Regions from separate parts of the Homo sapiens genome. Here region 2 is reported to be linked to region 1. Evidence: microRNA targets listed by miRTarBase, many of them from high-throughput screens and not tested one by one. Region 1 holds a microRNA gene; the other region holds the end of a gene's coding sequence.

Region 1 (4,067 bases):
GGAGCTGTCAGAGCAGATCCACCGGCTGCTGCTGCAGGTGAGAGTAGCGGAGAGGGAGCCTGGGAGGTGAGAAAAGGTGTGGGAAGCCGGGTCAAGCCATCTAACCTGCCCTCTCCCTGCTGCAGCCCGTCCACAGCCCCAGCCCCACGGGACTCTGTGGAGTCGGCGCCGTGACATCCCCAGGCCCTCTCCACAGCCCTGGGTCCTCCAGTGATAGCAACGGGGGTGATGCAGAGGGGCCTGGGCCTCCTGCGCCAGTGAGTGACCTGCTCCTACCTCACCCTCTAATCGCCCTTTCCCCTCTCCTTCTTGGAACCAGCACTGCCAGTCCCAGAGTCTTGCCCGATCCTCCTTTGCCCTCTCCTTCCTGCCTTTTCCTTCTTGTCCTGCTCCCATCAAGGCGTCTGTGCCTCCCCACTGGTACCTTCTTGTTTTATTGTGCCCTTGGCCCCTGACACTGGCGACACCCCCTGGTTCTGCTCACTGTGGTGCTGTGTCCCACAGGTGACTTTCCAGCAGATCTGTAAGGATGTGCATCTGGTGAAGCACCAGGGCCAGCAGCTTTTTATTGAGTCTCGGGCCCGGCCTCAGTCCCGGCCCCGCCTCCCTGGTGAGTTGATGATGATGTGTGGGTGAAGAGACAGACCTGGGGGGTCCCCTGACCTTCACCCCCAACCCATTTGCTGTTTTTTTCCATGTGAGCTTGAGAAGGCTATTTTCCTCTTTCTCTCTTTGCCCCAGCTACAGGCACGTTCAAGGCCAAGGCCCTTCCCTGCCAATCCCCAGACCCAGAGCTGGAGGCGGGTTCTGCTCCCGTCCAGGCCCCACTAGCCTTGGTCCCTGAGGAGGCCGAGAGGAAAGAAGCCTCCAGCTGCTCCTACCAGCAGATCAACTGCCTGGACAGCATCCTCAGGTAAGGCCTGCCAGGCATCTTCTCCACCTCGGGCTCTAACCCTGCCCACCCCAAGCCCTGCTCTGATGCCCTGTGCTGTGTCCATCCCCAGGTACCTGGAGAGCTGCAACCTCCCCAGCACCACTAAGCGTAAATGTGCCTCCTCCTCCTCCTATACCACCTCCTCAGCCTCTGACGACGACAGGCAGAGGACAGGTCCAGTCTCTGTGGGGACCAAGAAAGGTAAAGATCCAATGCACCCTGCTCCCACTGCCCCGTCCTGGCCTGGTGGCCCTGTGTCTTTTCCCTTCTGCTTCTGGGCCCTCTTGCTCTGCCCTGCTCTCCTCCCCAGCCTCCTGGTCTCCAGACTGTTCCCTCTGTTCCCTACCACCATCCCCTTCCCCTTTTCCCTGGGATCCTCTCTCCTGACTTCCCAGTGGGGGTGGGGATGGTAACTGGCACCATCTCTCTGCACAGATCCGCCGTCAGCAGCGCTGTCTGGGGAGGGGGCCACCCCACGGAAGGAGCCAGTGGTGGGAGGCACCCTGAGCCCGCTCGCCCTGGCCAATAAGGCGGAGAGTGTGGTGTCCGTCACCAGTCAGTGTAGCTTCAGCTCCACCATCGTCCATGTGGGAGACAAGAAGCCCCCGGAGTCGGGTATGGGTGTGGAATTGGGGGGCAGTGCTTGGGCTCCACCGGTCTCCCAGCTAGAGCTCCCTCCTGCCTTTCCCCTCCCCTCTAGGGCCTGATGGAGAGAAGGAGGCCTCCCTTGACCTGGGGCTTGGGGCTACTGCTTCTTGCTCTCCCCTCCCTGCCAGGCTTCTCGGCTTTGCCCTTCCCCTGTTCTGCTTCTCGTATTGTTACTGTCAGTTGAAACACAGAGTCTGGGATAGAGGGTTTGCCCTGAGGTGCTGACCACACAGGGTCTGAAGGCAAGGAAAATTGAACATCCCTGAAGGGTCTTTGGATATTGACCTTGAAAATCATGAGGGGCTGGGCATGGTGGCTCAGGCCTGTAATCCCAGCATTTTGGGAGGCTGAGGTAGGAGGATCACCTGAGATCAGGAGCTCGAGATCAGCCTGGGCAACATGGTGAAACCCTGTATCTACTAAAAATGCAAAAATTAGCCGGGCGTGGTGGCGCGCGCCTGTAGTCCCAGCTACTCGGGAGGCTGGGACAGGAGAATCGCTTGAACCCAGGGGGTGGTGGTTGCAGTGAGCTGAGATCGCACCACTGCACTCCAGCTTGGGAGAAAGAGTGAGACTCCATGTCAAAAAAAAAAAAAAAAAGAAACAAGAAAATGTGTGAGGGAAGGCCAAGGGGTGGGCTTCTCTTCCAATGAGAGTTGTGACGGGGTCATCCCAGTAGAGTTCCTGGCAGGGAGTGGCCACTGGAGGGGCCTGAGTATCGTCTCTTCTTCTGGGCCAGCTTTGCATGGAGAGGAGGACCCAGGGCCAGCCGTTGGCAGAGAGGTGACCAAGAAACGTACATGGAGACCAGGCTTGGCTGTGGGGCAGAGCTGCCAGGGGTTGGCTAGGCTATCAGACAGGGAGGGTGTGGTATGGATGTGTTGACCCCTGAAGTGGTTCTGATGACCTTTCCCTATCTCACTCTCCTCAGACATCATCATGATGGAGGACCTGCCTGGCCTAGCCCCAGGCCCAGCCCCCAGCCCAGCCCCCAGCCCCACAGTAGCCCCTGACCCAGCCCCAGACGCCTACCGTCCAGTGGGGCTGACCAAGGCCGTGCTGTCCCTGCACACACAGAAGGAAGAGCAAGCCTTCCTCAGCCGCTTCCGAGACCTGGGCAGGCTGCGTGGACTCGACAGCTCTTCCACAGCTCCCTCAGCCCTTGGCGAGCGAGGTAGCCACCTGGGGCCTCCTGGAGCCTGCCCTCTGCCCAGTCTAGGACTGGATTGTTGGGGGGTGGGTCTTAAGGGAGGTGTTTCTGCTCCAGGGACCCAGGCTGGTGTTGCTTCCACCACTAGGCCCTGCCTAGGGACAGGCCCCTCGCTAGCTTCTCCCCACTAGGATGGGGTTCCGGGCTGCAGCCAGAGGAGGGCAGCCTGGGGGGATGGCACTGGGATGGGCAGGCAGAGGTGCTGTCTCCAGGTAAGCGACTTCAGGCCTAGCCTGGGGGCAGGGGCAGGAAGTATGCCCACTTAGGAGTCAGTTGTCACTGATGAAGAGACATGCATAGATTCTGGGCCAACTCTGGGTGGGGTCTGGGCTTCAAGGGCAGGTGGAAGGCAGCCCCTCCAGGTGCCTGAGGGAGATCCCCTGCAGGCAGACGCAGGACTCAGGACTGGGCTTTCCAGCCCCACTCTTCACTCCATTGCAAGCTAGGCAGAATACGGCCTCGATGGGCAGGAGGAATGCCTAGGCTGGCAGTGCCCACAGGAGTTTGGCGGACCAGAGCCATCTGTCCATGTGTCCATGGACTCACCCTGCTTCCTCCATCTGCCAGCATGCCTCCATCTTCCGCACACCCCCAGCTCGACCCCTCGTGTAACCTCTCCCTGGCCTTGTTCCTTTCTCAATAAATCCCCTTGTCCCTGGCTCCTGTGATTCTTCCCTGAAGGTGCCCCACCTCCTGAGTCCCCCGTTCTGTGTGGGTTGAGAAGCTCTCTCTGGGACCTTGGCCTGTCCTCTCCCTGGTCAGCGTGTCAGGGCAGTGTGGGTAGCAGGGGTACTAACCCCAGGTTGAGGTCCTTGCTAACCCTAGTCTCTCCCCACAGGCTGCCACCACGGCCCCGCACCCCCAAGCCGCCGACACCACTGCCGATCCAAAGCCAAGCGCTCACGCCACCACCAGAACCCTCGGGCTGAAGCGCCCTGCTATGTCTCACACCCCTCACCCGTGCCACCCTCCACCCCCTGGCCCACCCCACCAGCCACTACCCCCTTCCCAGCGGTTGTCCAGCCCTACCCTCTCCCAGTGTTCTCTCCTCGAGGAGGCCCCCAGCCTCTTCCCCCTGCTCCCACATCTGTGCCCCCAGCTGCTTTCCCCGCCCCTTTGGTGACCCCAATGGTGGCCTTGGTGCTCCCTAACTATCTGTTCCCAACCCCATCCAGCTATCCTTATGGGGCACTCCAGACCCCTGCTGAAGGGCCTCCCACTCCTGCCTCGCACTCCCCTTCTCCATCCTTGCCCGCCCTCGCCCCGAGTCCTCCT
Region 2 (4,059 bases), not on the chromosome of region 1:
ACTAGTACATTTTTATATAATGTGTTCTTAGTTATATACTATCCCCATTGTTAGCAATTTCACTTCATTTGATTCTCCATCTGAATTTACACTTTCCATACAGTACTACTCTGGGGCTCTGAAGAGTTAAGAGAAAGAAATCCTCTTTAGCCATATGGGGAGGGAAAGGGCCACAGTCCTTCCAGCCAAGAAGGAATGGTGGTGAGGAATCAATAACAGGCAAGGGCGGGAAAACGGGACAGCTCCTCTGGCACTCCAGAATGAAAGAAATGAAAATGCATCTGTTACATTTATATTCAAATATATAAACACCTGCTCCTGATAACACAAATGATTTGGAGATAGTTGTGATTTGAATAGACTGTAGCTCTGTCTCCTGCTTCTCCTCCTCCTGAAAGCCCTAGAATCTCTCAAAGAGGGTGACCTTTCCTTTTCTCTTTTACTGAAATGAATTGTAATGACACTGATAGAGCTGATTTCCCTGGTGATTAGGTAGGTGTTAAATGTGTCCATAAAAGATAACAAGGTGGTATACAATCCAAAGGGGATGGAATTAACACTTGGTATTGAAAACGAAGATGAAAATGCCATAGATACTACACCAAGGGGAATGGCAGATCTTCACCCAACATCTGGGATCTTGATACCTTTCATTATAACTTACAGGTTTTAAAAATTCACATGCCAGAGCCCCTAAGGAAATCATAGTGTTATAAAAAGAACTGAATATACAACTGGCAGATAATAAAATTAGACATATTTAACTCCTTAGGCATAGAGAGCCCAAGTTTTTTTCTTTTTTTAAAATAATAGGCTCATAGCTATTTACACACATTTAAAATACTCTAGAACCACTTGATCATAAATTATTCGCTATCATACAAATTCATCACATAACTTAAGGGTAATTGTTGGAGCAAATGCTTCTAAAACAAGTTTTGAGGATATGACAGACTAGTAAGTTTATTTTAATAAAAGTTATTTTAATAAGAAATAACTCAGATTAAAAATAAACGGGAGGGGAGAAAAAAATAAACTGAGAAAGTATGCTTACACAAATTTTTTAAAAAAGCGATTGCTTGGCTGGGTGCAGTGGCTCACACCTGTAATCCCAGCACATTGGGAGGCCAAGGTGGGTGGATTGCTTGAGGCCAGGAGTTCGAGACCAGCCTGGCCAACATGGTGAAACCCCATCTCTACTAAAATTACAAAACTTAGCCAGGCATGGTGGTGCAGGCCTGTAATCCCTGCTACTCAGGAGGCTGAGGCAGGAGAGTCACTTGAACCTGGGAGGCGGAGGTTGCAGTAAGCCGAGATTGCAGCCTGGGTGACAGAGTGAGGCTCTGTCTCAAAAAAAAAAAAAAAAAAAAAAAGTTATTGCTATATTTCTGAGTTTTTTCTTAGTCAAATATAAATTCCTATCTCTGTTTTTAATTTACTACTTCCAATCCCCTATGTATGTGGGCTGAATGATAAAGAAGTCTCTACCTCTTGTAGACCCTGGAATTGGGAAAAACAGATCTTTCTGATTTGTTCTTTGTGCTTCCTAACTTCATTACGTTTTATGGACTCCTGAAGCAGTGATTGTTTCTACCAAAAATCCACTAACTCTTGATTATGGAACTCAAGTCCATCTAAAAGTCAAAACAAAAACCATTTCTGCAAATATTGTTGACAGCTATTGCTATAGAATAAGACTGAGAAGAATATTCTTAAATTCCTTTATACTGTACTTCTGGATGATAAAAGTGGAATAATTCCTGTTAATTTTATCAGCAATTAATGGAGATTGACTTAGTTTAGATACACTATATAATTGATAACATGTAATACATATCTGTTATATGTATAAAACATATTATATGAAGGCCAGGCATGGTGGCTCACGCCTGTAATCCCAGCATTTTGGGAGGACAAGGCAGGCAGATCATGAGGTCAAGAGATCGAGACCATCCTGGCCAACATGGTGAAACCCCATCTCTACTAAAAATACAAAAATTAGCTGGGCGTGGTGGCGCACACTGGCTGTAGTTCCAGCTAATCTGGAGGCTGAGGCAGGAGAATCGCTTGAAGCCAGGAGGTGGAGGTTGCAGTGAGCTGCGACTGTGCCACTGCATTCCAGCCTGGGTGACAGAGTGAGACTCCGTCTCAAAAAAAGCCACAAAAAACCCCCAAACCAAACATATTATATGAATATTTGTGTTCAATAAAACAATAACACAATAAAAATGATGTTTTATTATTAAAATGATCTTACAATGTCAACATCAATGTTAATAAAAATATATAATAGGCTGAATTCATCAATGATAGAATAAGTTGTAATTCACTTGGAGGTTCCATCTTTCAAAGTAAGCCTTTCATAGATAAATGAAAATCCTTTATTTTGTAGAATTTTAAAGATTGTTAAAGGCTGGGTCAAGGCAAAGCCACCTCTATTAGAAGGGGAAAGAAAAGCAAGATGAAACAAAATATGTTATCATACATATCGCGTGTGCTATGAGCATCTTTCTACTCCTGCCAGATTGAAAATTCTAGGTTTCAACATTCTTCAGGATTTAACAAGTCAAAATAAAAGCAGAATTCAAATCTAGACAGATGTAAAAGACTTCAGTTTCAAATTGAAGTTGATATTTTTCCTCTTCATAGTATTTGGACTTTAAAATAAAAAAAAATTAAATCTTACTCTCTACTAAGGTATTTATGTATTGAGATTATGGGTTCTTTTCATATTGAATTTTAAGAGATGCTGCTTTGCTGTCTGCATTTTTAGGCTTTTAGGAGCAACAACATTTATGTACAATGAATCAGTACAGGGTTGGTGACATGACCCTTTAAAAGCAAAGATACATAAAAAAGATTTTTTTCAAAAAATATTTTAACACATAGGGGCTTGCTTTGTATATACATGCTATAGTTAAAGACAAAATGTGGATTAATTATTATATTTGGGAAATAGATATTTATTTGCACTAATTAGCTGTGTGTGTGTATGAGAGAGAGAGAAAAAAAAAGAGAGAGAGAGGTTATTTTTCAGCTTAAATAAGACTGTAACTTCCTGAGAACTCTCTCTAATTGGGTAAAATACTGATTGAGATATTCAGTCTCCTTACCAGGAATTGTAAGAAAGTCTACTTTGTACATTCATGAGAAGCTGAAATAGATTATTGTGTAATAACCGAATGGAACATCTGTTTAACCAGATGTTTTAGTTGAGAGAAGTGTAAACATGATTCTAAATGTATAAATATGTTGGTTATTCTTCCTTGTCTGGGAGGTTGTGCCAAAGTTTACATAGATTAGAGGAAAGGCTGGGTCTGGAAAAATTCAAAAATATTACATAAATGCAGAGAAAGTAATACAATAAGGTCAGTTGGCAATGATTTTAACAATTATTTACAGGGCCTTCCTTTGCTTCACCTCATGGCTCACATACAAGTGACCTGAGTCACTCCATCTTCCTGATCAAACTGTCCGTCGTCTAATTCCCGGAGGACGTTGTCACTGCTGCTGAACCCAGAGAAGCTGTTGTGCTGTGCCAGCCTTCCCTCCTTTGTCCAGCATTCCCGGGAGGGAGAAAGGCGGCACTCCTCAGGCAGGTGTCTGCTCTCTGCAGGTTGTGACGAGGTTGTGTCTAATCCGATGCTTCTACTAGTGGCTTTATTCTTGTCTTCACCTTTTATGTGGCGGCTGGCTTTCTTCTGAAACACAAGACATTGGTGACCAGGAGAGTTAAAAAGATGGGTGTTTCCTGTCCCTCTGGTCTAGCACATGCTGCCTTTCTGCCTCCAGGAATGTCCTTTTCCCCAGCTCTTCAAAATCCTGCTCATCTTCAACGACCAGCTCAGAGCTACCTCCACATTCCCCTCTCCACCCAAATACAAATGAACTCCCTTCTCCCTGTTTTGTAACTCTTTGTAGGTTCCTGGCACATCATTCTTGTTGATGGGTATGTTATGTACACATCTCGGCCCTCAGTGACATCTCTAAGGAAGGAAATTTGTTGAAATCATACTTTGGGAGAACAAAGCAAGGTATAAATACTAATATGTTTTTCTT

What was found. The annotated mature microRNA hsa-miR-6883-5p reads AGGGAGGGUGUGGUAUGGAUGU and lies in region 1 at 2,441-2,462, shown strand. An mRNA with a match to its seed (bases 2 to 7 or 8) in the 3' UTR can be bound and repressed. Matches are read on the target gene's strand: a 7mer-m8 pairs with bases 2 to 8, a 7mer-A1 pairs with bases 2 to 7 and ends in A, and an 8mer does both.
Region 2: miRTarBase lists RFTN2 as a target of hsa-miR-6883-5p. Seed matches in the 3' UTR shown: 7mer-A1 at 3,272-3,278, 7mer-A1 at 1,907-1,913, 7mer-A1 at 1,288-1,294, 7mer-A1 at 1,121-1,127, 7mer-m8 at 1,016-1,022 and 7mer-m8 at 158-164.

The regions. Positions count from the first base shown.
Region 1 is chr17:8,143,440-8,147,506 of GRCh38, reverse strand. It overlaps MIR6883 (microRNA 6883), which reads left to right and starts at 2,436; the gene lies at 2,436-2,513. It overlaps PER1 (period circadian regulator 1), which reads left to right. Exons shown (of 23, transcript NM_002616.3): 12 at 1-37; 13 at 126-257; 14 at 505-610; 15 at 742-913; 16 at 1,005-1,135; 17 at 1,370-1,549; 18 at 2,514-2,756; 19 at 3,631-4,067.
Region 2 is chr2:197,568,580-197,572,638 of GRCh38, forward strand. It overlaps RFTN2 (raftlin family member 2), which reads right to left. Exons shown (of 9, transcript NM_144629.3): 9 at 1-3,701. The coding sequence ends at 3,429. LOC124907952 (a long non-coding RNA gene) reads left to right here. Exons shown (of 2, transcript XR_007087918.1): 2 at 3,403-4,059. Among named protein-coding and RNA genes, the nearest start is that of MOB4, 55 kb to the left of the region's middle.